Linked DNA regions of Homo sapiens: regions 1, 2, 4 and 5 are each reported to be linked to region 3. The links are microRNA targets in miRTarBase. Many come from high-throughput screens and were not tested one by one. Region 3 holds a microRNA gene; each other region holds the end of a gene's coding sequence.

Region 1 (6,076 bases), not on the chromosome of region 3:
GCAGGCGATGCAGACATGGTTTCCAGCACAAACCTGTGCCGGTCAAACAGCTCCCTTCTGGCCTCCCTCTTAGCACAGATAAGATCCAGAAAATCCCACAGGAAAATCATCAAACCATGAGGTAGGGAAACCTGCATGGGTGGAACGGCATGACGGCCGCCTGCGTAAAGCTAGCGGGAGATGAGATAACCTCCTAAGCCGCCTTTCAGCCTGAGGCCCCAGGTGGATTAACACCAAGTCTGCAGGCTGAAAGCAGTGTTCACACTCCACGCTGTCCTCCAGGTTGGGAGGGATGGAGAGGAGGAAGGAGGGGAAGAGGATGGGCCCCTTCCACACTACCTCCCCCAGCTAGCTGTCAGAGACAGTACAGGACACACGCATCTCCACCAGCCTGCTCTCCTCCCACTGGATAGAGCTCCACCTGCATCCAGGTTTGCACCGGCAAGGTCAGGGCAGCAGCAGCTGCTAGGAAAGTCAGGACACTGTTTCAATACTTAGGAGAGCCACCTTCACCCCAGGTATCACGGGACAGTCATGGGGCTGCTTTAGCCCAGTGCCCCCTCCTGTGTGCAGAGAGCCAAGATCCAACAACATGTCATCATCATTATCAGGATCATAATCACATTACCCTCAATGCATCCTTGGGTGGGAGGGAGGAGAGGAAGAGGAGGAAGAAGGCAGAGGAGGGCCCATGAAGAGCAAGGAGGGAGAATAAAGCTCCTCTGCATTCTGGAAGTGGGAGAAGTGAGAAGGCGGTGTGCAGGGTGATCCTCCCAGGCCTGTGTCTGCTTTGGACCAGATGCTCCAGCCCCTTGTTCAGCTGTGGATACCGACAGAAGGGCTGGCAGACAGGACGCCTGGGGCCTGAGCTTGGTGCTGCATTCTACACTGATTGACAGGGTGAGCTCACCAGCTCTTATTCTATGCTGACTGACAGGGTGACAGCTCAGGAGGCTCTTCCCAGAGTCTCAGTTTCCCCCATGGCTCCTGTACACCAGCCAGAGCATCGAAGATGGACCTGAGTTTTGCTCTAGAGTCTAAGGACAGCAAAACACAGGCAGACTCTTTCCTAGAGAGACAGTCCACTTCAGACAGCTCTGATGAGGGAGTGGAAACATTACTCTTAGGGCCTAATTAAATCAGGCCATCTCTGGAGAAGATCTAGGACCACAGACCAGCAGCATCAACTGGGAGCTTGCTAGGAATGCAGACTCTCAGGCCGCCACTAGGCCTGAAGAATTGTAATAAGGAGGTCCCCAGATGATTCATGCCCATTAAAGTGTGCAAAGCCCTGCTCTTGGATAGTAGATGGCAGAATGTGGTTCCCCCAGGCACACCACCATCACCTGGGAGCTTGTCAGAAATGCAGAACCTCAGGTCCCACCCTGACATTTTGAGCAGTTTTGAGCAGGAATCTGCCCTTTGCCCAGGCCCCAGGGTATTCGAGTGAGCAGCACTGCTCCAGGGCCCTGAGGGCCGGCAGCTTCCAGGAGTTCTGATTTCTCTTTGCTCCTCTGCTCTCTCCACCTGGCAGATCTGCGGGATGGTTCTCACCTGCTGCTTGCACCAGAGGCTCCAGCGGCATTTTTACTAATGGCCAACCACCTCCTCTTCCAACTGCCCCTCAAGACAACATGTGGCCACATGCCATCTGCAAGGCCTGCAGAGTTAGCACCAGCTCCACTAGGGCCATAGATGCCCCCTCCTTTGTGCCTAGCTCCTGCGAATCCACCGAGTGCCTGAGACCATAGCTTCTGTGCCCACCCAGGCAGAGACCCTCGGCCCCCTCTCCTCCATTTCTGAGCCCCCATGGCCAGATCCTGGGCAGGGAAATGATCCTTTCAGGAGACAACCAGAGCCCCTCACCAGGAACGGGGGCACCCGTGGACTACGGGAGGGTGGCGGTTGGGTTCTCTGCTCCCTCCCAGCTCCTGAACCTGGAACAATCGGCAGAAAACCCAGGAACCCCGGCACTCCTGCATTCAGCACGGGATTCCCCCACCCATGCCCAGAAGCCCTGACCTTGCTGTTTCTGGAAAAAGCATGGGGTGGGGCAGGGAGGGCTGGCATTTCCCCCAGAAGACCTTGCCCTTTGACCTGCCCACTCTCCACACTGCCTCACCTGGAAAGCCATGTCCTGCTGGCCTCATTCCTTCCTGAAGGGCCTAGGAGTGGGGAGGCCTGGGTAGGGCAGCCACAGGCTGGGTAGAGCCGCCCTGGCAGGAAGCAGGGGGTAAGGTGGCCATACCAGCACATGCTGCACTAGGAGCAGAGCCCTGCACCTGCCTAGCTGCCTTCCTGGGAGAAACCTCCCTGGGAGACCATGGCCCCAAGCCCTGGCCTCTAGTGATACGCCCCTCGGGAATCTCCTGTTCCGGGGCCTGATTCTCAGGAACACCAGGTTTCAGACCATCTTCAGCACCTAATGTTGATGGGTGTCAAACATCTCCTGGAGTGGACCAACTCGCAACCCTGCAAAGTCGGAGCTGCTGAGAAGGGGCAGCTCTGAATAGAGGGGCATCTGCCTGAACCTCACTTTTCCTGGGGCCCTCTCCTTGACCCCGTAGCCACCACCACACTGCTTCCAGGGGGTCCAGCTCTGCTTCCCTTCCCACCTGTCCTAGAGTGGACAGAGCTTTTTCCTTGGGTTCTCTCTTGCATCACTAAGTTCAGCAGGGAATTTGCGGAATTTTCAGGAAGAACTTTCCCCAGTAATAAGGGAGAACAGAAAGAAAATCCTAGAAAATACAGAGTATCCATGCTGGCAGCTTTTTGTACAACACCCATAGGGACCCCCCCAAATGGCTATTACAAAGGGGCAGCCCATTCACTACACAAGAACCCCACACCTGGCTTCCACCCTCCCCAGCTCCTGCACTTCTCCCCAGAGCGGGACCCTCTTACTTCCCCCCATGAAGGGGGGCACCTTGTGCTAAGGCCAAGGCTGAGCGAGGTCCCAGCTCACCTCCCTGCTTGATCCAGATTGCACTGTGATGAGCACATTGCTGACCTAGGCCAGTCCTGGGGCAGGCGTGCTCTCTCTCCCATACATAGGAGTGGCCTCAAGGCCACCCAGTGCTGACCCCAACAGAGCCCTGAACTGTCCAGAAACTGCATCCTCAGCACAGGAAGTACCCACATGGACAGAGGGAAGCCCAGCCTCGGGGCCGGTTGCCTCCTCTTCTCTGGGTGTTCTCCAGTGGCTTCTTGGAGCCTAGGCTGGTTTATCTCCCCTGCCTAAAAGGCCCTGGGGTTGCCAATGCAAATTCATTAAAACGAAGACCAGATATCCCAGACTGCACAGAGGCCGAGAGAAATGGTATAGTGCGTGATTAGCATTGCTGCCCTCCAACCTCCTGGGATTCATGCAGATAATCAAAAACTGACTATGACTCCCAAGTTCTCTGAAGGATGAGATCACAACTGACAACTCTTACGACAGAGGGAGAGTGGTGAGAGAGAGAAAGAGGGTACTGGGCTAGAGCCATGTTCTTCCTGCCGAGGTGCCAGGGGGAGGCGGCAGTGGGCAGGGGGTGCTGGGGCCTTACCTGTCTGCCCTGGTGGGGATGAAAGACAGGTGACAGGCAGGTGCCCTGTGCACAGCCTTATCATTGAAGGCAGGCCCAGGACAGCCTGCCCCATCTGCCCCAGCCCCATGGGATGGTTGGTCCAGCCTGACTGGGGCAGGATTAGCTGCAATTCCTGCCCTGTGTGTCGTCCAGCCAGACTGCCTCTTGAAAGATGGCTTGTCCAAGCGGCAGACAGTGGTAGAACAACCCAGGGCTTGGAAATCTGACCTCCTTGTCCATGCCAACAGCCTGGGAGATGAGACAGGGTTAGAGGAAACAGAGGCCCAGGATACGGCAGGTTCTGCCTGGGAGTGTACAATGGTTGGAGTCCAGAGCCAACGATGTGGTCCCCAGCGGGGTGTGCCCCTCCTGCTGACGAGGGTACAGATCCATACCCAGGTCAATTCCTCCCGGGCCCCTGTTTGGAGGCTGCTACAGCCTTGAGTTCCTTGGAGAGAGAGGACACGCCTGTGGAATGTCACCTTCAGTCCCGTGCAGGCAAAAGGCCCCTGCACACCAGGGCCCTAGGAAAGCAGCATCAGGTGCTGGGATCCCACCCAGCTGGCACGGGCACGTTCTTGCCCTGCACACTCCATGCTGCCCTTCCCTGAGCTCGCAGGGGCAGACACCAAGAGAAGGGCGCGTCCCCGAGTCCCCTGGGTGACCTGTGTCAGGACAGCAGGCAAGAATGAAACGTGGCCTTGGCTGACGGGTTGGAATATTTGTGACCGTTCTTGTCTTTCTCCCTCCTGCTTCCCCGGCACCCTAGCCCCATCTCCAGGAGCCCCTCAGGCAGAGTAAGTGGGGAGTGTGTCCAGGGATTTTTTTGTGTTTACCAAGGTCCTGCTGTGCACTTAGAATCTGTCACCATAAATACTTATCTCGCAGTTACCCCAGCAAGAGGGTGTTATTTCCCCCATTTTATAAAAGGAAATTAAGGCTGGGCAAAGTTAAGACTTGCTTGTCAGTGGTCATGGCTGTTGTCTTGCCACCCCCAGCTGGGGAGAAGGAAGAAAACTGGGCCGGGAACCCCTCCCCTCAGTGTCCCCCAGTTCTCCATCTCCATAAGGAGCCATCAGGCTGTCATTAAGGAACAGAGTGTCACTCAGGGGGCACTGTCACAAAGCAGCACCCATGGCACATGGGCCGGGGGTGCAGAAGCCTGGCTTATTTCAGGCTGACAGCTGGACCCTCTGGGTGCAGGGGCTCAGGCAGTGGCCAAGAGCCCAAAGGGCTAAGGCCCGTGACGACCACCCAGCCCGTCACCCCAGGTACAAACACTGACCCCAAAGCAAGAGCAGGGACTGTCCCTCAGCCCTCAGGGCCTTCATGCAGGGTGCAGAATCTCATGTCCACATGGAGGTCACCCCTCAGGTCACACCCACTCCCAGAGCAACCCTGGGCAGGGAGGGGCACCCTGGGGTTGTGTTGACCACCTCCCCTTCAGGTGAGGCCCTTTTCTGCCTTCTTTCTAGCCCCCTGCATGGGGCACCTGCTATTGCTGGGGCTCTGGGGTGGACCCTGTGTGATTTCTGTCAGGGAGCTTGTGCTGTGCATGGCCAGAGGTGTTTACATCCAGAAGGGCCCAGCACGGCCCTGTGGGGTGTGGGGGGAATATGGTAGATCATTGTGATGTGCCTCGGGGCCCTCTTGCCTTGGAGCCAGCTTTGTTTCAGAATCTGCTACTTGGGCCCTCTTCAGGGTTTTGAGGCTGGAGAAGTGAGTTGGGACAGTCACTGTCATCACCACCCACCCTGTCACCCACCTGGAAAACATTCTTGATATACTGGCCATGCTGGGCCGGGCTCACATCCACTGAGGGTATAGTGACCAAGCGTCTAAACCAGTCGTTCTCAAACTTCGGTGAGTATCAGAATCACCTGGAAGGGCTTTTACAAACAGATTGCTGGCCCCACCCCCCAGAATTTCTCATCAGGAGTGGGCAAGACCAATCATTTGCATTTCTGACAAGTTCCCAGGAGCTGCAGCTGCTGGCCCTGGAACCACACTTTGAGAACCACTGCTTTAGACCAAACACCAAAGGAAGATGCAGCCACCCTCCTTTACATGTCACAACGCTCAGGGTCCATGAGTACCTCAGGCTGTCCAGCTGAGCTCCACCTGCAGCAGCCGAGATTCCCGACTCGCTCCACCATTGGGGGCTAGGAGTGAAGCGTGTCACCATGGTCAGCTCATGGCCAGCCAGGAAAGCCTCTCTGCTGTGCGTCTGTGCAGTTCTTGTTCTTCCCTGGAGGACTCTTGGATCGCCTGTGATCTTGGCCAGGAGACCAGGTGCCTGGGTCCCTTCCTGGAAGGGGACAAGTTACACACCCCAGCCCCATTTTCCCACCAACTTCTACATGCCTTGGGAGAACCTGCTACATGTTGGCTGCCCCCTTCCCCTATTTCAGCAGTGCCCAGTCCTGCTTATAAACCTGAGGCCTGCTCCCCATACCCTGCCCTGTGCAAGTGCCAGCCGTTATTCCAGGCAGCCCAATGTTGTTGAG
Region 2 (6,076 bases), not on the chromosome of region 3:
AGAATGGATAAACTCAAGCCTCTGAACTTTAGCCCAGGGGCCTGGCTGTGCTGTGCTCTTAGCCAGCACGAGGTCTATTTGCTTGCATTTGAGTCTCCTGATTAGTTGGTCACCTTTAATCCTTAATGTCTGCTGTAATAATCACACCATCACTAATAATCCTTTACAATTGTTGAGCTATTATAGTTCAGAGTGACAGAAGCAAGAGATGTGGCTTTCCTGAAATGAATAAACATAGCCACCTCATCAAATGCCCAAGCACCCCGTGAGTTAAGTAGGGAAGAGGTGTGCCCCATTTTACAGATGAGGAAAGTGATGCTCTATTTGCCTAAAGTCTCCTTGCTGGTGAGTGGGTGGGCCAGGACACAAATGCTGCCACGTCCCTTCCCGCTATTCCTTTCCTTTGAGACAGACACCTGTTCCTGCTTTGGTCTGTCTCCTAACTGAGATCCTTTGTGTTCACTTAAAGTCCCCCTTCTTCTAAGCAGCCTGTTCTGATTCCCTCCACAAGCCCTTCTCTTCCCTGACCTTTATAGCACCCACTTCTGCACGTGGTGACGAAGTCCAGGGTGGCTACCTTGGGTGGATATCTCATCTCTCAGCCTGACTGTGAACTACTTGCGATTGAGGGGTGGACCCCTGTCTTGGAGGAGTCTTAGCACAAGGCTGGGCTTGGAGAAGGTCCTCAATCCTTATGCATTGACTTGGGATTTGATTTGGCAGGATTGGGCCCGTACGCATCAGAATACATTCTGGGCTGTGTCAATTCCCAGTAGGGCAGAAGTGCTTAAGAAGAAACCCTGCCACCACTGGGGAATCCCCAGCATGTGTGCTGGCTAAAGCAGCCTGTGTGGTGCCTGGATATGTCAGGAGGCGCTGGGAACATAGGTCAACGTTGGTGCAGTCTCAGTGCAGCACAGTGTATTAGTCAGCCCAGGGGCCTGGCTGTGCTTATAGTGTGTTCTTAAACACACTATAAAGAAATCCCCTGGCTGGGCGCTGTGGCTCACACCTGTAATCCCAGTACTTTGGGAGGCCGAGGCGGGCAGATTACTTGAGGTCAGGAGTTTGAGACCAGCCTGACCAACATGGTGAAACCCCATCTCTACTAAAAATACAAAAGATTAGCCGGGGATGGTGGTGGGTGCCTGTAATCCCAGCTACTCGGGAGGCTGAGGCAGGAAAATTGCCTGAACCCGGGAGGCAGAGGTTGCAGTGAGCCGAGATCCAGCCACTGCACTCCAGCCTGGATGACAGAGCAGGATTCTGTCTCACACATACACACACAGACACACACACACAGACACACACATACACAAAAGAAAGAAATCCCTGAGACTTGGTAATTTATAAAGAAAAGACATTTATTTTGGCTCACAATTCTGCAGGCTGTACTGGCATGGCACCAACATTTGCTCAGCTTCTGGTGAGGGCCTCAGGAAGCTTACAGTAAAGGCGGAAGGTGAAGGGGGAGCAGGCATATCACATGGCGAGAAAGAGGGGAGAGGTCTCAGACTCTTTTAAACAACCATATCTATGTGAATTGAGTGAGAACTCACTCATCACCAAGGAGATGGTGCTGAGCCATTCATGAAGGATCCTCTCTCATGATCCAAATACTTCCCACCAGGCTCCACTTCCAACACTGGGAATTACATTTCAACATGAGATTTGGAGGGGACGAGCATCCAAACCATATCAGATGGTGAGACAGGAGAACTTTGTGTGTACCAGCTGCACTGGTCTGAAGATATAACTAAGTCCCTGGACTTTTTCTCCCTTAATTGGAGAATTCCTAATGTTCCATGATCAGCCTGATTGACCAGTGGCTGACTGGTCCTGAGAGGGGAGATAAAAACAGACACACAGCTTTCTCCATAGACAAATCTCAACACTTTATTCATCCTGTGGCAGCAAGAAGGGGACATGGCCCCAAGATAGCCAATCAGGTGAGGTGGCTGGAGTATGTGTTATCTTTCCAGATAGTACATACAGACTGATCATGCAGAAACAGGAAGGGAAGCAATAAGTTAAAAGCCACATAAGTTATGAAAAAATAATATATACTTTATATGTCTTGTATCCCCACTGAGGATTTGCTCCCTTGGAAACCAATGAAGAGCCTGAGGAAAAGCACCAATCAGCACCCTCTTTTGGGACTTTGGGGATGAGAATCTCTGAGTTCCCATGGCCAGAGAGTCAGTAACCCTCCAGTGCTCCCCACAGGCCTGGAGGGCCTTGAGGCCTGGGATGGGCCCAGACCTCTGGCCAACATGTCCTGGCAAATGAGATGAATGAATCTAATGCAGTCTAGAAGAGGAGGTGAGGCAAGGGGCAGGGAGGGGAGAGGAGAGTGAAGGAGGGAAGGAAGCTGTGCAGTGGGAGGCTGGTGCCGCTGGGATGCCTCTGCAAGCCTCAGCATTGAGAGCCAAGAGGAGGAGATAGGAGTATGCCTGCCAACACCCCTGTCTTCTGGTGGGATGTGGAATTTTCCTCTCTGGTAGAACCCTTGTAAGGCTGTCATTTGGGCCCCACAGCTGGACCTCAAGGGCTTGGAAGCTCCCAGACTTGCCTGGACTGTGCCTTCTTCCTGGCCTGCTGGAGGCAGGGGGAGTGGGCATGGAGGGAGGAAGGGGAAGGAGTGAGAAGAAAGGAGGAGCTCTAACCCCATAGGTGTGGGGGGTTCCTGGGCTCCCCCATGAATGCCAAGGAGGGGAGGGCCAGGCTATTTGGCCCAGTGGAGAGGAGAACAGAGGCCCTGAGAAGTGAGATTCTTGGGAAGTGGGCCTGGGGCTTCACGGCAGGGGTGGGACCAGGGGTCTCCAAGGCCTGGTGCACCAAAGCCCGGTGCTCAGGCTGGGAACAACCCGGCTGGGGGCACAGAGCTCAGATCCAGGCTGGGTAGGACCCCAGCATGGCAGGGAGGTGAAAGGAAGATCGAATGCTCCTGCCCAATCTCAAGCTGCCATCTGGCTTCCACTCCCAGGGAGTTGATTATGGCAAGAGCAGCTTCCGGAGAAGCTGCTGGGAGCTGGCTGGGGGCAGCCCATCCAGTTCTGACTACTGCCTACTGGGAGGGACCCATGGGAGGAGGAAGGGATGCGGGTGTTCGGGCTGATCTCTGGGGCCTAGGCTTAGGTCCCAAATAGCCAGGGCCCCTCCTCCCTTCACTCCCTAATACTGTCAGGTCTCTGGGGAGCCCAAAGAGCACGGGAAAGCCAAGAGGGTCTTCAGCAGCCAGCCTTCCCAGGAATTCCAGATACAGGACAGGGCCCACGCCGTCCTCCTCGGCTCCCGCACATAGGTGGATGAGCCAGTCCCAGTCCCAGTTCCGAGGCAGAGACAAGGCAAGGCTTGAGATAGGAGTCAAGGTCAAGGATTGGGCAAGAGTCAGAGGGGCCTTGGCAGAGCCTGATGCTGGAGGAGGAGCCTCAGAGGAGCGAGGAGGTGGAGACAAAACTGACCCCTAATTCCGACTCACCCATCAGGAAAACCTCTGGCCAGAAGGTTGGAAGGATGGGACTGTGAGATACTGATATGGAGCGGAGTGGCTCTGAGGAGCTGGTGATGCTCCTCTCCCACCCTGGCAGCCCACAAAACACAGTCAGTTTTGAACCCCTCTCTCAGTTCAATATCAGGTTTTGCCTCTCTTCTCAACCTAGAGGCTCCAAGCTGCTTTCTTGAGTCTAGCTTAAGTCCCTCCTGCTGCAGTGGAGTGCCCTGGGGTTCCTGGGGTCCAGCCGCCTTACTCTGAGACCTCCGACTCCTGCGAGAAGTACTTCTCTGACATTTCGGTGATTTTGATCACGGGGCCTTTGCTGCCCTTCTTCTTTCGGGAGGGGGCCTTGGAGAGGCCTGATCTGGAGGCAGCTACAGGGAACATAAGGGGTAGGGGAGGGAAGGGGCTGGAGGTTTGGGAGCCACTTAAAATGATGCCTTTAGGATCATGATCCCCTACACCCTCACCCTCACCCCACCATGGGTTCTCGGGGCAAGAGGACTCACCGGTTTTGCACCTGGACTGCACAGCGCTGACCACAGTGGCTGAGGGCGAGTCCATCCTGGGGGTGGGGGACGGGGGGGTGGGAGAGGGATATGATGGGATGCGAAGAGAGCCTGTGGCTTAAACTCCCCTGGGGGCTGGCAAGTGGAGGGTAGTTCTTGGTGGTCACTCCCAGCCCTGGGGTTGCCCTGTTGTGTGGCCCTGGCTAGCCAGCTTGTCCTTCCTGGGCCTCTGTCCCATCTCCATGGCATAAATGGCTAATAGCATTGAGCACTGAGTTTTGACAGGCATTTGCAGGCATAATCACATGAATCATCCCTGCCACAGGTGAACCATGTTTATGATCAGCCCACTTTCCAGATGGGGAAACAGGATGAAATGAACTGGGCCAAGGTCCCAGTTTGTAAGTGACTAAGCCAAGACTTAAACCCAGGCCTGGTAGGCTCACTGTATCATATTGGAAAGGAGAACTGACTTTGTGTAGGCCTGGGCCTCCAGCCCTCCTTCCCCTGCAGCCCTTCCTCACCAGCCCTGGCTCTCACCTGCCCTCCTCGCCCTCCACCAGCTTCCTGTAGGTGGCGATCTCGATGTCCAGGGCCAGCTTGACGTTCATCAGCTCCTGGTACTTGCGCAGCTGCCGCGCCATGTCCTGCTTGGCCTGCTGCAGGGCGGCCTCCAGCTGGGCCAGCTTGGTCTTGGCATCCTGGAAGGCCAGCTCACCCTGCTCCTCAGCTGTCTTGATGTTCTCCTCCAGTTTCAGGCACTGCAGCCAGGAGGACAGAGTGAAAGGGCCTGTGAGCAGGGGAAGGAGGAGCGGGCCAGGGCCAGGAGTCGTCTCTGTCCTTGGTGGGGGTAGGTGTGGGGAGGGAGGGCTGAGCAATGGCATTTCTGGGTGTGGTAACTGGTTGCCATGCAGCAAGAGGGAGTTCAGTTAGACCTGAAGAGGCACCTTCCCAAGGCCAGAGGAAAGCACCGCAAGCCACTAAAGGAGCCTGTCCCGGCTGTCCTTATGGGGCAGCACCTGCCCTGAAGGTTTGTCCTGGCTGGAAGCTGGGACTTAGGCCTCTACTCCCTCCTCTCTGTGTAGTTGGTGGGGGTTCCCAGGAGGGAGGCAGTGGGCTCTGGGTGTGTGTAGTGTGGGGGCTTTCTAACGTTCCAGCAGCCTTGACCAGATTACAGAGTATTTTTGTATGCAGAGCGCCTCATAACTACTTTAGGAGGCTGTGCTATTATCCCATTTGACAGATTAGGAAACTGAGGCACAGAGGCGCTAAGCGACCCACACAGGGTCACTCAGTCATGTCTTGCCTGTATTCAGCACACATGACTGTGTGTCTCCCTGCTCTCCTCCCCGCCCCCAGGCGCGTCCCCCAGATACTCACATGGCTCTTGACAGAGAGGATCTGGGACCGCAGCTTCTGGATGCGCACATTGAGATCCGCGATCTCGCTGCGGCTGCTCTGGAGGCTGCTCCCATACTCGGCCGAGCGGGCGGCCTGCTCCTCCAGCTGGAGGTACATGGAGGTCTCAGTGAGGGGCAGCTCAGTGCCGCTCCCAGCACTTGTTACCCGCCTCTGCTTTTTCTTGCATCCTCCAGTCCCATCTCCAACTCTGCAGCCCACCACGCCACGCCAGGCTCCCTCAGCTCCCCCTTCCACCTCCCTTTCTGGGTGGCCTCTCCTGGCTGCCCTAGCTGAGCCCCATGGGCCATGCCCACATCTGGCCTAGCATTGCTGATAACAGCACCACCTTGAACTCCTGGAGGGCACAGACCAGCTTCTGTGGTCTCCCCCCGCCCGCCCCGTCCCTGTGCTTCTCCATTCCTCTCTCATAGACTTTCAGGACAGAGAGCTGCAGGCAACCTCAGCCATCACCAGTCCAGCCCTTCCTGCCACCCAGAGAACTGTCCAGGCTGCTTCTCGTGCCCTGTGTGGTCAGCCCCACCTGGCTCCGAGAGTATGCCTCGGCCTCCTCCAGGCTGCGAGCCGCGACGGCGTCATACTGGGCCTTCACCTCCTCCACGATGCCGCTCAGGTCGATGTGGCAGCGGCTGTCCATGCCGACGGTCACCGA
Region 3 (6,076 bases):
TCAGCAACACTTTGGCCCAGACAGGATTAGAGCTGAGACCCCTGGCCATGAAGGTCTTCCCTGAAGCAGAGGAGGGCAGGCTCCCCTTGGACGGTCTCGGTGGGGGGTTGACTTTGAGGCTTACCAGAGCAGTCAATACTGCTGTGGTATTTTGAGTCAAGTCGGTTTTTGAGCCAAATGAAAAGCAGCCTGTTTGATTGCTCTCAATTTCCTCTTGGCTTGCAGGGGGATAAGTATCCCTGGGCTCCCAACCTCATATCCTCCCCTGGGCTGAAGGCACTCTTGTCCTCCAAGCCTCCCCTACAGCAGTGTTCATGGGCAGCTGGAGCAGGGCTGCCTACCCATTGCTACTCCCAGGAGCTCAGGACTGGCTCCAGACCCCTGGCATCTGGAGCAGAAGCAACATCAAAGCAGGGATTGGCCAACTCCCACCCCTAATGCCAAACAGGCCAGGCACTGGGAGCACTCAGAGGCGTGACGAATCTCAGCCTGTCTCCGGCTAGTGTTCCCTGGCCAGTCCGCTTTGGGCCCTGCCTCACAATGACGGGCTCATCATTCAGCCTCGCTCATCTGCTCATCATTTCAGGACTGCTCTGTTACTCGGCAGGCTGCTTGGGTGAGTTGTGTGTGCGTGTGTGCACGTGTGTGTGTGTGTGTGGATGCACATGCATTGTTTTGGAAAAAAGACTCTTGGAAAGCAGACTGTACTAGGAGGTTTTAGCAGCCTTTAAATTTTTTTTCTTTTTAAGTTTTTCTTTCACAGGGCTGTTTCTCATTGTGAAAGCCTTTAAATTTTAAACTGCTCAGCCAGTGTTGAAGTTGCAATGCAAAGGGGTTTCACAGTAGAGTTGGTGGGGACCTGGCATACATGCTAACGGGTGTGTGCACTTGTCTGTGTCCCTCTTGTGACCTTGACTGACACAAGTACCTTGTGCTGGCAGCTGGTACCTTGGCTGGCAGCTGGTACCTTGGCTTTGAAGTAAAATCGTGTTCTGTAGTCTGGGCCCCCGCTGGCGTTGGGTGGCTGAGACAGTCTCCATCACTCTTGAGTGGACTGCCTTGGGTAATTTGGCTCAGAGGCACAGCCACCAAACCACAAATTGTTCTTTGTAGGTTGTATCCTTGCCTGCTCAGGGACATACAGCAGAAGGCAAACTCTACCATGTTCTTTCAGAGAAGTTCAAATTACGTGCAACTTTTAGGATCAGAATTTGTCTTTCAAGGTTTGTTGTGGGGATTGAAGGAAAATTGTAGGGTGCAGCCTTCTCTGGAACATGTGAATTGGGGGGAATTTTGGGCAAATTGCATTCAGTTAATGTAAGAACTTTACTGTAGCTGAGACCCAACTCACTACAATAAAGTCAAAGCACTCTGAGCTGCCATACAGCGTGTGCCCTTGGCTTTCTCTCTTCTTTGGGGTCTGTCTCTCTCATGCAAGTTCCCACAGGCAGGGAAAGGCCCCAAAAGAGGAGGAGGAAGTAAAAAGCTGACTAGTCCACCAACTGGACAGGCAGGTGCAGAACAGTTAAATGGCTGCACTTGTAATTCTCTCAACCTGCTGAGGCAGGATGCTTATGTCACTTCTTTCCTTTGACAGTTTCTAATGACACATTTGTTGGATTGAGGGGGTGGGAGGGAAGGCTACTTGATGGAAAAACAGAAGGCAGAAATGGAAATGGCTATTTCCAGTAACCTATTGTGGGGCTGGCCTTGCAAGAGGGTAGATGAAGATGGATACAGTGGTGGTTCTGGTGTCATACTTATTTTAAAAAGGGACTAAAGGAGGCCAGGTGCAGTGGCTCATGCCTGTAATCCCAACACTTTGAGAGGCTGAGGTGGGCGGATCACCTGAGGTCAGGAGTTCAAGACCAGCCTGGCCAACATGACAAAACCCCATCTCTAGTAAAAATACAAAAATTAGCCAGGCATGGTGGCACTCGCCTGTAATCCCAGCTGCTCAGGAGACTGAGGCATGAGAGTGGCTTGAACCCTGGAGGCGGAGGTTGCAGTGGGCTGAGAACCCACCACTGCACTCCAGCCTGGGCAATAGAGTGAGACTTCGTCTCAAAAAAAAAAAAAAAAAAAAAAAAAGGCAAAAGGACTTTGGAGATGATTTGGGCAAAACTCTTTGTGGTACAGATGAGGAAACTAAGTTTCAGATTGAGTAAGTGAGTTGTACTGGCTCACATGGCCACTTGCACCTAGACTTAACACTCTTTAATCAAATCCATGTCTTTCCAAGAGTAAATTGGAGAAAATCGCTTTCCAAAGATGTGCCTCAGTTTCTTGAAATGAAACAAGAGAAAGTCTCCTTTTCAAGAATGGGTATTGAGTCCAAAGGGCAAAACCAGCATCATCGACAACAAAAGCTTCAAACACTTGCCAAAGCCTGCATTAAACAATTACCCATAATTTGGCAATGCACTGGCCACATACAACATGAGCTTGATGTCTTTAAGTTGGGACATGCGGTCCTGAAGTTCCGTGATGGTTGGCATTTCCAAGGCAGCTGCCTGGTGCTGAGCCACGTGCTGCTCCCAGGTTTCTGCAGGCTCCACGGAGATACGCACAGGATTGCTTTCAATACAACAGAGCCTTCCGGGGCTTTTCCAGACTGGAGCCTGAGCTCAGACACAATTCTATAGAGACAGTCCATGAGAAAGACCCACAGGCCACTCGGATGACACCAAAATAGACATGTGAAGTCCTGGCTTAGTTGACTGGGAGGGAGGAGGGAGGGGGAAGCTGCTCCCAAACACGTCCACCTGATGGAAATATTCTGAACAGGAATGAGCTGTAAATAAACTAGGCTCCTAAAAACAAATAGCTTCAGGGAGTCAGGGGAGGGCAGAAATAGATGGCCTTCCCCTGCTGGGAAGAAAGTGGGTCAAGGGGGAAAGGGTGAGGGGGATGGGGTGGGGGAGCCGAACAATGCAGAAGCCTCAGCCAGAAATGCAGCTGATAATTTGTGGTCACTGAAGAGGTCTCCAATTTCCAGGAAGAAAGGAGAGAAGTGATTGCTTTAAATGATACAAGGTCCTTCATCAGTGGAAGGCCACACAGGGTGCTGGGTGAAGGAAGGCACTGGAGGCCATATATGGTCTGGAAAAATAATGGTGATGAGTGCATATTAGCAGTGTGGGCCTGCCAGCCTCCCAGGTGCTTTTGGAACACTGCAGCCTCAGCCCTTAGCTGTGTGCTGAGGCAAAAGAGAAGCAAAGGAGAAACTGTAGCCAGGGGACCTTAAAAACGTTCCGGGATTGGTGTGAACCTGCCAGCCTCCTCCACCCTACAACTGAAGCTGCCCACTCCTAGCGACTCAACACTCTAGGAAACTTGGAGAAGCTTGAGGAGGAATACATTGGCATTAATGTCAAGTTCGGGAACAATGTATCCATATTATTTTACCACTGAGAAAAGTAGCCCGTGACAGCTGGAGCTGCCCTGACTCTCAGAGCTCGGCATGGTGTTTTGCAACACAGAAGCGATGTCACAGAACACCAACTTCAGACAGGGTCACCCTGTGACCTTGATGGATTGAGAAGAAAGTAAGAATCACTTGATAATCACAACTGAACACAGACGAAAACAGGACTATCATCCAACCACAAAAGTAACTAAACATTCTCCTATCCTTGCTAATATGAGTGATTGCTGCTGTTTAAAAAACCAATCACAGCTTTGGTCTTGCTCCACTCTCTTCTAGATATGAATTAAGGTACTCAATTATAGAATGGCCCTTTCTTCCTGATGGCATCCAATTCAGAGTGAAGCCAGACTTCATTTCCTCAGTCTCCCCTCCATCACTTAGCAAAATCCCCAACCCTAGGATCAGTCCTTCCCAGCATCCTCTAACTGAGATGCCCCACGGTTCCTTCCGGTGTGTGTTCTCCCTCTTTGCAGTGAGTCAATAAACCCAGCTTGGTTCCCTGAAGCCTTTGCTTGGAGGGCACTGATGCTATAGCCCCAAGTTGTTGTTATGGGACTTGAAGCTCCAGACCTTCATTTCTACCACATGCAGTCATGGTGTAGAGCTCAAGAGGAAGGGCTCCGGAACCAGACTGCCTGGCTCTGTCACTTACTAGCTATATGACTTCGGACAAATTGCTTAACCTCTTTGCCTCAGTTAATGGATCTGTAAAATGGAGATGATGATAACAAGAGTAGTACCTAGCTCTTAGGGTTGCTGTGAGGATTAGGTGAATTTCTATGTGTGAATCACTTAAATGGTGCCTTGCATGTGGTGTTTGTCATTATTAATTCAGCAAACGTTTGTGGAGTGTCTAGCATATGCCAGATACAGTGCTAGACCCTGGGGATAAAAGCTGGCTCCTGCTCTCCCAGAAAGCACAGTTTGGTCAGAGGGATACAAGGAAATAGTTTTTCCCCATGGAGGAAACCTAACATAGGGGTAAACCCAGAGAAAAACAGCAGGGCCACTCAATCTTGCCTGGGAAGTCAAGGAAAGCTTCCTGGTGGAGACGGCATCTAGTGGAGGCTGCTTGTGGGAGGGCAGGGAGTGGGGTACAAGCAGAAGGCCTCTGAGCTCTGCAAGCCTTTCCAACTACAGATGCCATTTAGGTACTTTCTGCTTCCCACAGGCCTGGCCCAGTGCCTGGCAAAGAGTGTGCTCAAATGAATAAATGTCTAACACCCATAAACTAGTGCCTGCTGTGACTTTTCTTTCTCAAACTCTGACCACTGTTGCCCTGGGTACCCTGCAACTTCAAAACCACCCTTGATTCTTCCTGCTTCTTCCCTCCTGCAACATGTTGGCCCCGTTTCTCTGCATCAGTCCCTCCCTTCCTGTCCCGTGCCCTGCTGCATGCTCCCATTCTCCAAGCCTGTCCTCCCCACACCTGCACCTTCCTTGCACACAGTGTTCTCCAGCACCATTTTGATCCTGTCACTCCTTTACCCTGCACCTGCCGTGGTTTCCTACGACTTTCCAATTAAAGCCTAAACCCTTTTGTGGGGTATCCAAAACAGCACAATCTAGCCCCAAATTAACTTTCCAGCTTTCCCTGCATCCTGACCCCAACAGTCACTATTCCTTTAAGATAAGAGCTTCCTCTTCAGTGCAATGGCACAATCTCGGCTCACTGAAACCTCTGCCTCCCAAGTTCAAGCAATTCTCCTGCCTCAGCCTCCCAAGTAGCTGGGATTACAAGCATGTGCCACCACGGCCAGCAAATTTTTGTGTTTTTAGTAGACACGGGGTTTCGCCATTTGGTCAGGCTGGTCTTGAACTCCTGACCTCAAGTGATCTGCCCACCTCAGCCTCCCAAAGTGTTGGGATTACAGGCGTGAGCCACCACGCCTAGCCTGTTTGACATATTTTGGAGTGCCTGTCTGCCTGGCCTTCCTCAGGAGAAACTCCTCCCACAGCCTCTGTTGAGCTGGTGACAGACCCTGAGATCCTGCTAAAGACTGGGTCTGAGTCTGGTCCAGGGCAGGCTCTGCTTAGCTGCCCCCATGACCTGTCACCTGGCTGGGCAAACAGATTCCCTGTGGTGGCTATTTGAACTAAGACCCACAAGGGGATGTTCCAGACAAAGCAGATGGGGGAGGTAAAAGAGGTGAGGCAAGACTGGGTCAGCCGTCATGGAGAGATGGGCGTGAAGACGCCAAAGAGGATGGAATGGATCAGATGCACAGAAAGAAGCATAAAAGGGGAGATGGGGGACAGGGGATCGAGGAAGGTGAGAGAAATACCAGGACAGTGTCATGTCCCATTGACTCATTGGCTCCAGCTCTTTCTGACAGTTGTTAACTTTACAATAAATCTCCTTTTTCCCCAGAGCCCATGTGAGTGAAGCTCTGCTTCTCACAATCCAAGTAGCCCTGAATGGAACATGGGTCTTTCTCCTGCCATTCCTCCCGCTCCCTGGGGAGCCTCCCCTCCTTCCATCAGCCACCTCCCCAGCTAGCCCTTCAAGGCCTAGCTCAAGTATGCATGACTTCCCCAGATATTTTCGTGGTCTGGAAGTCTTCCTGTCTAAATTCTCCTTGCTTTTCCAGAATTAGCATGAATGCCCTCTTTCCCAAAAGACAGCTAGGTTTATCCCAGCTGGTG
Region 4 (6,076 bases), not on the chromosome of region 3:
AATCCCAGGTCAGTTAGCACAGATGCCCCCTAGAAAAGCCAGATGTGGAAGTGGAGACACCTTTCCCAGGGCTACGGGGATTCTTACCCCACTCACCAATGTCCCTCTTGCATTCCTGGCCCCTATCTCTTCTTCCATGTAACCCTTTCTGTAAAACTGATTAGGTAAAAATCGATTAGGTCTGTAGAAAATGGGCAAGGGCATCATTTCCCTTACCTGGTTTATAAAGATAAAAAATTGGTACACTCCTCAAAGAAAAAAAAATAAGAGGGAGCCACCACATTTGGAAATCCACAGCTGACAAGTAAAGTAGTAGCAATCCTTTTACACATGAAAGGTGCAGTTTGCGGATTGTAAGGTCATCGTACTCGGTGTTTATGGCCAATTTAATATCCGCTCACTGCAAGTGGAATGAGGCAGGAAGCAGAAACTGTGGCCAGTTTTTTCATCACTGTGTCCCCAGGGCTTGGCAGAGAGACTGGCCCATGGTCAGGGCTCAATAAGGATTTGCTGAATGAATAAATGGATGGATAAATACTAATCTTTTTATGTTTAAACTGATGCTTCCTCTCATTATAGTAAAGCCATCAAGGGAATAGTCAATGAATGGTCTCAGGGAATGGCGAGTATTTGTCACATTGTCCCATTCCCCAAACTGCAGGCTTCCCCAGAACTGTCATGAGAGCATCACCTTAGGCCTTCTCGCCCACTCCTCACATTACATGTAATCTGGGCCACATCGTTTAACCTCTCAAGGTCCCCATGTTGCAAAATAAAAGTTGAAGGAAGCGATTCTCAATGTTTCTCCCAGCTGATTCAATCAATTTTGGAATACAGAAGAGACCTTAGTGCCTGAAAATAATCTCTAACCCCAGTCCTTAAGGTTTTCTTACAGTTATTTTTATTATTTAGTTTTAATGAACTAACACAACGTAGGAGGGAACGCTGGGTTGGGGTTTACTTGTTACATGACCTCAGGATGATGTACTACAAACTTCACAGATAGGCACACCTCTTTCACTAATTATTTTTAATAAAACAAAAGATCAAAAATCAGCATCAGGAGATGACACAATACAGTTGAGACTATGGAAAGCAACTATTTCCAAGCTGGGCATCATAAAATACATCATCAAGAACTGTGAACAGATTTGCTAAACAAAGGAAAGCCTCATCCCTTTAACCCTCCACAGCCGACATCGGGAGTCTCTTGGGGTAGAACATGAAGTGAAAAAGAAGTGGATGGCCAGAATGCTGTACATTGTCCCCCAGTGACCTGCCACAGAGACTATTTTTAAAGACGCATTTATCTCAGCAGGAGTGACGGCATTTAAGAAGTAGCCCGGTACTCAGGCTAGACAATCCTGCAAAAGTCTGCAGAGCTTGGCTGCACCCTTTACAAAGACCTGAGTGATGGATGAGATGGGAATTGCCCTTGATTGGCTAGGTGGCTGGTTTAAAGAGCCATAAAGATAATGCAGAAGTGAGATCTTGGAAACCAAATGGAGTTAGCCCCCAAATTATTGCAGCCACCCCAGCACTCCAATGTTAATCCAATTTTAAATTTACAAGATCCATCTTAACTAGAAATGCAGGCTCTAACTGTCCTGCAAGTTTTTTAAGTGGTAGCTGCTCAATGAATTGTATTATCCCATTAAAGAATAATGTTTTAGATGTGGTAATCCCAGACTCACACAATTCTCTTTTATGAACCTAGCCACTGTATTCATATGGAAAGTAAATTACAGCTATATTACATCGAGCCTTTCATTATTGACAGAGCAATAAATGTTAGTACTCCTATAAAACACTGAGAGAAAGATTAATACACAGTGGTATATATATTTGGAGGAATCAGGGTGTCCAGTCAGAGTCAATATGTCTTCTCTCCCTGTACAGAAAAAAAGGGAGGGGTGTAAATAAAAAGGTGAGGGTTGACAGAAGGAGAGTAAACATTTTAACCATTAAAACTGATCTCAAATCGACGGTGGAAAGGTGTCATAAGATTTACCCCTACCAACCCGTTAATTGAGGAAAATTACAGAAAGATGTCCCGAAGCTATCATAGGACCTAAGCATTTCTCCAATACTGAGAAAACACTCGATATAGCCATTATTATTCTGTTTTAAATTTTTGGAGATCTCTGCCAGGGAAAATGTGGCACTTGCCCATTGAGAGCACTGCAAATCAACTCAAACAACTAGTTCTTGCAGGCTGATGTTCATCCGGCCTGGGCAGGTGCAAGTTCACCTCCGCTGGCAGTTGTGCGTAGCTCACTGTCCCCTCCATTGTCAGACAGTTCTGATGTTTTTCCTCTTCCATGCAGTCAAGACTTCAGTCTATTGCTGACCTTCATCAGAGAGGTTTGTCCTAAGCTCCTCCCCCAACCCACACCCCTGTTTATGTTCAAAGCTGGACTTCAGGAAACAGTTCTCTTAAGCACTGAAGAAAAACATATTTGGCATCCACTACACTCCCTAACTCCCACTCCAATGGACTCTGTTTCAAAAGCTCTGGACACATAGCATAGATTTCTCATGAGACCTGACCATCCTAACAAATATGGATTGCATTTGCATTTTACCACTAGAACAAACAAAAAGTATTTACATTTGGAAGAACTGTGGCTACACTTCCCCATCCTTCCCTCAGTCCCCATGTTGTTTGATTCTTGCCTGCAAAGAGTACCAGAGGCCACTGAACACATCTCACATTGTTTTTGGGTAGTGGCAAAGTAAAATGCCAGCACTGAAGATGGTGAGCTTGAGTTTCACAAGTCATCTGTGTAAGGGAGAGAAGTAACTACTCACTACACCTGCACAAAGAAAAGTGCCTGGATTAAGCAGACTGCACAATGTGAGTTTGTTAATTCATCCTCCCAACAGAAAGTTAAATGGCTGTAAGAAATTGTGCTTGCATTTCATTTGATCAGACCTCATTTCCTGGGACCTCAAACACCAAGTTCTCCCAAAATATGGCTAAAATGCTGGCAATATTTGCAGATACCAGTTGTGGAAATTAAACCCAAATAAAGTTATATACAAACTTAGTTTACAGAATAACTATCCCATTCCGTTTCTTTGAATAGAGCAAAACAGAAATAAATATCCTTCTTAAATGTATTACCTAATTATCATGGAAAGCCTAGGAGACATAGGAGAAAAGTAGATCTCTATAGATGTTGCTCAAATACTTGGCTTTCTAGATCAGAGTATCCTCAATGCTACTATGTCAATTTTCGAGTGGAAAATATGATAGGTGATACTTTTAAATGCAAAAATATATACTTCAAGCCCAATCTTCATATAATGACTCTAACTTCCAGCCAAGTTGATTTGTTAAGTTGTTGGGCTCCAAGGAGCTTTCTGGAGGAACCTGGGTGTTTCTGACCCTCTAATTCCTTTTCAAACGCAAGTTAAGTCCTTGCACTTGACTTAGAGAAATGCTTGCTCCTCGCATAGTGTGTGCACTCACTGGAGAATCCTCTCCCTGCCTTGGACTGGGAAGACTTGAAGTTAAACACGCAGCTCTGTGATTCTAAGGGTGGCTCAGGGCACCCCCAAATCAGTCACCTGAGTTACAAACATATTGACAGCTGAAGTGGGTCCTAAACTAGGGGTCACAAAGTCAACTTCTCCTCCCGTGCTATCCAAGGTGTCCTCCGGACCGTGATAGGCAGGAAGTGTGGATGCATTTCAGTGTCCTGGACAAGATTCTCTCGACCTTTCCTTTTCCCATAGGTTGTTCACATCAGGACCTGTTCTCGAGTCTCTGGCAGTCGAAGGGCAATCAGGCCACCCCCAACCAGAGAAGCAGCAGCCAGAAGGATGGGGACCACTTTGGTTATCCCAACAAAAGAAGCAAAGATGGTGTTTCCCAGGATGGCGCCAAATTTGCATAATCCATTGAGAATGCCGAAGGCTGTTGCTCTGTAAAAGAGGAATGGAAATAATTCTGACATTCTGAACCACATTAGATGAACAGGACTGGGCTCTTTCTTTTCCTTATTGCAGGGGGAAGAGGGTGCAAGGGAGTTTTTTTTCCTAAATATAAAAATAACACATTCTCATTGTAGTCAAATTTGGAAATACAGAATAATATAAAGATGCATGGATATCTAACCTCTTCACCGAGACACAATCACCTCTATTAACATTTTGAAGTATTTTCTTCAAGTGTTTTTCTTTTTTGTTTTTTTTTCAAAGATATCTATTTAAAACATTTTTATAGGTACTACATGCTTACTATGGAAATCTTGAAAGGATGAAGAAGTATACAAAGCAGAAAGTGTAAGTGTTCCCCCTTTTAACACTCTCAACCCTCCTGAAGCAGAGACTGCCAGTTGCCCACAAACAGCATTTCCCCAAATGTAGGACTACATTTCCCAGACTGATTTGCTGCTGAGCATGGCCATGTGACTTAGTTTTGGCCAATGGGATGTAAGTGCAAGTGGCAGCAGTTCCCAAGAAGCTTCCGTAAGAGACGTTGCGGGTGGGCCTTTTGCTCTGTTCCCCTTCATTCTTTTCCTTCTATCCTGCTTCATGATGGAACACAGATGGTTTCATTTTGGACCATGATGAGTCCATGCAAGGAAAAACAATGAGATAGAAAGAGCCTGCACCACCCACTCTAGACTTTTTCAGGAAAGAAAAATGCAATGCTTAACCTTCTTAAGACCACAGTTACCTGAGGTTGCTGTCAGCAACAGCAAAACCTAATCCTAATTATGATCTTTCAATCACACTTTCCAGTGAGAACTATTACTAATCATTTATTCTTTCATGACCCCATCTGTATGCAGAGGCAATATTCCCAATGCTACCTCTCCCCAACTGAAATAAAGCGTTTCTTTCTCATACCACAAGTTTATTAAGAGTGTGGGTATATTTTTGTTCTTAAAACTCTTCTTTCATTTTTGTCTATAACTGTACCACACTGTAGCTTTATATTCATCAACCCAGTCTTTTTTGTTTGTCTTAGTATCTTTGTTTTTGTATTTTCTTGGATCTTTTAACATATGTCCTTTTTTAAATAAACTTTTTTCAAGTTCCCAGAGGGGAAAAAAAACTTGTTGAATTTTGAATGAATTATTTTATGTTAGAAAAAAAACTAAATAAAAATTGACGTTTTTGTAAGATTGAATCTTCTTATCCAAAATTAGGTATATCTTGTCTTTTAAATATATATATTTATATATAATAATGTATACTAATTATATGTTATTAATTATATGTATTATCATAATTATATATAAATATATAATCCATAAATATATACATTTTCTGAGACAGGGTCTGTCTCTGTCACCCAGGTTGGTGTGCAGTGTTGTGATCCTAGCTCACTGTAACCCTGAAACCCCGGGGCTCTCGCAGCTCTCCCCCTCAGCCTCCTGAGCAGCTAGGACTACAGGCACATGCCACTATGCCTGGCTAATTGTCTAATATATTCTGTAGAGATAGGGGTCTCACTGTATTGCCCAGGCTGATCTTGAACTCCAGCCTTCAAGCAATCCTTTTGCCTCGGCCTCCCAAATCACTGAGTTGGCATATATTTATCTTCTCTTATGTGTCTTTTTTTATATCTCTTAGTAAAGCTTTATGGTTTTCTTCATTTGAGTGTTTCACTTGTCAAGTTGATCCCTAATTATTTTATGACGTCTGCCATTATTAAATGGATATCAATTGCATCTTTAACTTTTTCGATATATTTTAAAACCTATACATAATTTCGTTTTATTACTGACCACCTGACCACATTGTCTTTTTGTCTATAGTGGTCTCATAAGTTAATTCTCTTAGGATTCCTAGATGTAAAATCACATCATATTCAAATAATAATCATTTGTCCTCCTGTTATTTTGTGTAAAACTTAGCAGTTCTTTGATTCAAATGAGAGGGGCTCCAAATATGACACGTTGTGCTCTTCCTTAGTTATCTATATCCCAATACCTCTGTCGCCAATTTTGGAAATATCATTAAGGTTTTTGCAGAATTTCATTTACCCACCTTCCTTACCTCTTCACATTCCTTTTTGACCACAGGGCCTCTTATCTTCTCCTTTAAACTTTACAATTCC
Region 5 (5,520 bases), not on the chromosome of region 3:
GTCAACGGCTTGAAACAGCTGAGAGATTTCAAAAGCACCTGGAACGAGTAATTGAAATGATTCAGAATTGCTTGGCTTCTTTGCCTGATGATTTGCCTCATTCAGAAGCAGGAATGAGAGTAAAAACTGAACCAATGGATGCTGATGATAGCAACAATTGTACTGGACAGAATGAACATCAAAGAGAAAATTCAGGTCATAGGAGAGATCAGATTATAGAGAAAGATGCTGCCTTGTGTGTCCTAATTGATGAGATGAATGAAAGACCATGAAAGATGTTTCTTTTTCTTTTTTTCCTTTTGATAATAGCATCATATATTAGTTCATTTTCTTTTGGACAGTCTTAAGAGAAGTTTCACTAAAAATGTAAACAGCTTTAATCTTGACTCCAAATTTTTCAATTATGAGATGTCATAGGCAGTAATTTCGCTGTATAACAAGCATAGACAAATGAGTGTCCCTGCACTAAGAAGAATCACTTTAAAAAGCAAAGTGTTAGCTGCTGTTGTATGGGACATTCCTATGTTTTAGAGTTGCAGTAAAACTTTGATGATAACCTCAATAATAGCAAAGTTTTCGTCTTTGAAAAGGGGATTTAGCATTTGCTTTAAGAATGATAGATAAATGGATATTAAGCTCTCTACATGTAAAACTATGAAATCTTTAGACTTATTCCATTAAAAATTTTGCTTAAGCTCCAAAAAGTAGCATAACATGTTGATAGAGAGGAGCCCAGTAGAGTTATAAAATAGAAACTTCATTTTTTCCTCATGACTGCTTCTGTAAACCCACTAGCTCAGTCTTTTCTCCCTATCCTGAATGGACTCTTGCAGGGAAGTCCCATAAATTGTTGTTTTTTTTTCCAGTCACTCAGGTAATAAGTCCTTTGGTCACTTTAAGTTACAGACATTAATTTTAGTAATTAAGATGTCTGTGTCATTAGCTATACATTTTCTTTAAAGCTAAGCTCAGACTTGTTTAAGTCCACAATGGGAAAGGGGTTTGATGGCAGAGACTGCTAGGTGTCTACCAAAGATTCTTGCTCTTTGAAGATATGTTGTCAAGATGTGGCAATCCAGCCAGGGACATTTCCCTACTCCCAGCATCTCTGTGAGAACATATGACTAAGTCGTAGGCGGTGAAATGTGGGCATAGGAATCCAGGCTTGCCCCATAAACATTTCTTGCATGATCCTCCATTCTCTTCTCCCAGCTGCTGGTTGGACGGTCGTATCCAGGATAAGTTTGGAAGCCACCGAAGATGGCAAAGATTGTCAGTCTGGTTCTTTGAATGACCGTGAGGACTAAGTCTTCCTTTCAGTAACTCCACTCTGCCCCTAGCTAATTGGACTTTATATGAGCACTTTCTTCTCTTCTTCCCCCGACTGTCCATCTGCTCTTCCACCAAGGTGTTAGTGGAGAGTTGACCTTGTGTCTGAGGATCTCTGCCTGCCGTTTTCTTAATGTAGGCCCGTGGTTCTTAAAGTGTGTGGTCCTGGACCAGCAGCATTGGTATCACTTGGGGACTTACTAGAAATAAAAGTTTTAGTATAATCCGTAGGTTCAGAAAAATAAAAAATAAATGAGGGTTCTCTGGCTCCATCCCAGACCTTTTGAACCAGAAACTTCTGGGTGTAGGTCCCAGCAAGCTGTATTTTAAGAAGCCTATGTGATTATGATACATGCTCAAGATTAAGAAACATTGAGGCTGGGTGCAGTGGCCCACTCCTGTAATCCCAGCACTTCGGGAGGCTGAGGCTGGTGGATCACCTGAAGTCAGGAGTTCGAGACCAGCCTGACCAACATGGGGAAATCCCATCTCTACTAAAATACAAAATTAGCTGGGCTTGGTGGCGCATGCCTGTAATCCCAGCTACTCGGGAGGCTGAGGCAGGGAGAATCACTTGAATCTGGGAGGCAGAGGTTGTGGTGAGCTGAGATTGCACCATTGCACTCCAGCCTAGGCAACAAGAGCGAAACTCCATCTCAAAAACAAAAAAGAACCATTGAGAGGCAATGCCTTTCCCCAGATGTCTACTTTTTTATTTCTTCCTTAGCCCCTGGTTTCTAGCATAGGGATTTGCTCACTTAAACTTTCATTGGTCCTAGAGCTAGCAAAGTTCACATTAAAATGATTATAAGGGGCCTGGCGCAGTGGCTCATGCCTGTAATCCTAGCACTTTGGGAGGCTGAGGTGGGTGGATTGCTTGAGGTCAGGAGTTTGATACCAGCCTGGCCAACATGGCAAAACCCCGTCTGTACTAAAAATACAAAAATTAGCCGGGCATAGTGGCAGGCGCCTGTAATCCCAGCTACTCGGGAGGCTGAGGCACGAGAATTCCTTGAACCCAAGGGGTGGAGGTTGCAGTGAGCCGAGATCGTGCCACTGCACTCCAGCCTGGGTGACAGCAAAACTCTGTCTAAAATATATATATATATGTGTATGTATGTATATATGTATGACTATAGGTCAGTTCTCTATGAAATGTGCATGCTGTGCTTTCACAGATCCAGGGACTGTAAGTTATCCCTAGGTAGACACTTCTTTATCAGATAGGCAGTTGGTTGGCTAGTCTCAACTTTTGTTTTTTTCTGGTACGTAATGTGTTTGGTATAGACCTTTGGGCCTCAGAGACTCCAGAGGACATAGTTCAGGCTCTCAAGCTTAAATTGAAGTAGGGAGCATCACCTTGTGAGGGAGAAAGGTGGAAATTGCTTAGCACTTGAACAACTCTCCAAAGAAAATTCTCTTTCTTTGACTCTGAGAACCTTGAGGAAGGTGTTGGGTTGAGGTGCAAAACCAGTTTTTGGCCACTTTGAAAATCTTTGCATGTAAAAAACAGAATCACATAAGAGCCACAACACTACTTATATATGAACGTGTGTGTGTTGGGGGGAGGGGCGTTGAGGGATTAAAATGCCACTGGGGGGCCAGGCACAGTGGCTTATGCCTGTAATCCCAGCACTTTGGGAGGCTGAGGTAGGAGGATGGTTTTAGGTCAGGAGTTTGAGACTAGCCTAGGCAACATAGTGAGACCGTGTCTCTACAACAAATTAGAAAAAAAAATGCCATTGGGGAGGATCTGATCTTGCAGGTCTGTGACTAGGACCTGACATAAATTCCTAAAGTGTTCTGATATGAACTCTTGCTATTAGAGTGGAATGAAAAAAAAGCTCTAGTGGCCTTATATAAGGTCTTTTTAATCTTGTGTTAAAATATATCTCTGCACACCTACTTATAATGAATATTCTTGAAAGATTGATTCATTGAAGTGAAATATCTGGAAGGATCACCTTTTTAAGCAGCTTTTGAAATGACTAATGCCCAGGTCCCACACTGCGGAGATTCTGATTTCATTTTTTGGACTGGGGTACTAGCATTGGTTTTAAGAAATCAGAAGATGATTCTCTTGTGCAGTGGTTACAGAATGTTGCATTAATCAGTGCTCTGTTACTGCTGACAAAAACCCTACTTGAACTAATTTAAGCAAAAAGATGAATTTATATAAAGGATATGGGGTATGGGCTGGGTACGGTGGCTCACACTTATAATCCTAGTGCTTTGGGAGGTTGATGTGAGAGGATCACTTGAGCTCAGGAATTTGAGACCAATGGGGGCAACATAGTGAGACCTTCTCTCTCTTACAATTTAATTAAAAAAAGAAAGGATATGGGATATGTTGATTGAAGGATAAGTTGAATATATAAACCATGAGAAGGTCAGAAAGTGGATGAAGTTTTAAGTTAGTAGCCCTGGAGACCATCTTTCCTGTTAGCTTCATTCTCTTTACAGATGAACTTCTTTAATGATGTAGGTGGAGAACATGGCAGCTGACAGTTCCTAAGGGTTAAGTATTTCTATGTTTACCACTGTCTGGGAGTTCCCTCTCAAATGCAAACTTAAAAAAAATGAGGGGAGGTTAATTAACGAGCTAGACATGAGGAATTAGGGGTTGTATACTTGATTGCAACTGGGCAAATCAACTGGGACTTGGATCCCATAAGAATTTCACAGTCCCCGCTATGTCTATTTATGGAAGAGTCAGTCTGTCTCTCAGAGGAAGGAAGCGGTGCTGAGCTAACGATAACGAGAGATCTACTACAAATCAGGCACATGTGAACTTAATATAAATAACAAACATAAACGGATTGTACAAATTTGTATTCCCTTTATGAGAGTAGTTTTTCCCCAGCTATTCATTTATTCATGATATTCATTTGATGAATACTTACTGTGGTCTGCACTCTGCCTGATACTAGTTTAACTGTTGGATGTGTGGGAAGGGCGAAGGAAAATGTAAGAAAGATAATAAGACGAGTTAATTTTTGAAGGTGATAAGTTTGTGTCTTAACCACTCAGCCATTACAGCACCTTCAGAAGAATCTTGCTTCCAGTTATGTTCCTATTGCCTGTTCAAAGCACCTTGTCCACATTATCTTCCCTTTTCAAGGAATGTGTACATTTTTTTTTGTCTTTTAAAACTTTTTTTTTTTTTTTGAGATGGAGTCTCACTCTGTCACCAGGCTGGAGTGCAGTGGCGCAATCTTGGCTCACTGCAACCTGCAACTCCCTGGTTCAAGTGATTCTCCTGCCTCAGCCTCCCGAGTAGCTGGGACTACAGGCGTGCACCACCATGCCCAGCTAAGTTTTGTATTTTTAGTAGAGAAGAGGTTTCACCATGTTGACCAGGATGGCCTCGATCTCCTGACCTCGTGATCCACCTGCCTTGGCCTCCCAAAGTGCTGGGATTACAGGCGTGAGCCACCATGCCCGGCCTAAAACTTTTTTTTTCTTTTTAAGTAGAGATGAGGTCTCACTATGTTGCCCAGGTTGGTTTCAAACTCCTGAGCTCAAGTAATCCTCCAGCCTCCCGAAGTGCTGGGATTACAGGTGTGAGCCACCATGCCTAACCTCACATTTGTTAAGGAATTTAGAAGGCAACTTTGCTAGGCACGGTGACTCACACTTGTGATCCCATCACTGAGAAACTGAGGCAGGAGTATCACTTGAGTCCACGAGTTCGAGACCAGCCTGGGCAACATAGGGAGACCCCATCTCTACAAAAATATTTAAAAATTCGCTGGATGTGATGGCACATGACGGGTTCCAGCCATTCCAGAGGCTGAAGTAGAAGGGACACTGGAGTCCAGGAGGTCAAGGCTGCAGTGAGCCACAGTCATGCCACTGCACTCCAGCTTGAGTGACAGAGTGAGACCATGTCTCAAAAACATAAAGAAAGGCAGCTTCAACTCATGCACTGAGCCCTGAGGTTACTGGGAACGGCAGGTGCAAATATCTCATGAGGAGATAGAAAGTTGGCATAATTTGGATGAGAAAGGCTACTATGGCTGCAATATGGTGAGGGAGGAGGTTGGAGCTTCAGAAGCAGGTGGAGGACAGATGTGCATGATTTAGAGAACCAAGGGAAGGAATTGGGTTTTTATCTGAAATCTGATGAGAAATTATGTTTGCAATTGATTTCTCATCAGATTTTACTAAAATACAGAGAATCAGTAGGAA

Evidence for each region. The annotated mature microRNA hsa-miR-4270 reads UCAGGGAGUCAGGGGAGGGC and lies in region 3 at 2,830-2,849, shown strand. An mRNA with a match to its seed (bases 2 to 7 or 8) in the 3' UTR can be bound and repressed. Matches are read on the target gene's strand: a 7mer-m8 pairs with bases 2 to 8, a 7mer-A1 pairs with bases 2 to 7 and ends in A, and an 8mer does both.
Region 1: miRTarBase lists TSPAN11 as a target of hsa-miR-4270. Seed matches in the 3' UTR shown: 7mer-m8 at 2,310-2,316, 7mer-m8 at 2,966-2,972 and 7mer-A1 at 4,174-4,180.
Region 2: the mRNA of KRT80 is a reported target of hsa-miR-4270. Seed matches in the 3' UTR shown: 7mer-m8 at 2,984-2,990, 7mer-m8 at 2,919-2,925 and 7mer-m8 at 2,336-2,342.
Region 4: miRTarBase lists SV2B as a target of hsa-miR-4270. Seed matches in the 3' UTR shown: 7mer-A1 at 613-619.
Region 5: the mRNA of MED7 is a reported target of hsa-miR-4270. The part of its 3' UTR that is shown has no 7-base or 8-base seed match.

What each region holds. Positions count from the first base shown.
Region 1 is chr12:30,990,322-30,996,397 of GRCh38, forward strand. TSPAN11 (tetraspanin 11) reads left to right here. Exons shown (of 8, transcript NM_001370302.1): 8 at 1,535-6,076. The coding sequence ends at 1,594. All of the region lies in intron 2 of TSPAN11-AS1 (TSPAN11 antisense RNA 1), which reads right to left. Among named protein-coding and RNA genes, the nearest start is that of TSPAN11-AS1, 13 kb to the right of the region's middle.
Region 2 is chr12:52,167,653-52,173,728 of GRCh38, forward strand. KRT80 (keratin 80) reads right to left here. Exons shown (of 9, transcript NM_182507.3): 5 at 5,948-6,076; 6 at 5,386-5,511; 7 at 4,546-4,766; 8 at 4,006-4,061; 9 at 1,344-3,870. The coding sequence ends at 3,746. Among named protein-coding and RNA genes, the nearest start is that of KRT80, 21 kb to the right of the region's middle.
Region 3 is chr3:15,493,052-15,499,127 of GRCh38, reverse strand. MIR4270 (microRNA 4270) reads left to right here and starts at 2,820; the gene lies at 2,820-2,889. All of the region lies in intron 1 of COLQ (collagen like tail subunit of asymmetric acetylcholinesterase), which reads left to right.
Region 4 is chr15:91,290,223-91,296,298 of GRCh38, reverse strand. SV2B (synaptic vesicle glycoprotein 2B) reads right to left here. Exons shown (of 13, transcript NM_001323032.3): 13 at 1-3,930. The coding sequence ends at 3,747. Among named protein-coding and RNA genes, the nearest start is that of CRAT37, 170 kb to the left of the region's middle. RefSeq lists an enhancer at 4,286-4,580.
Region 5 is chr5:157,133,482-157,139,001 of GRCh38, reverse strand. It overlaps MED7 (mediator complex subunit 7), which reads left to right. Exons shown (of 2, transcript NM_004270.5): 2 at 1-1,578. The coding sequence ends at 272. Among named protein-coding and RNA genes, the nearest start is that of MED7, 6.6 kb to the left of the region's middle.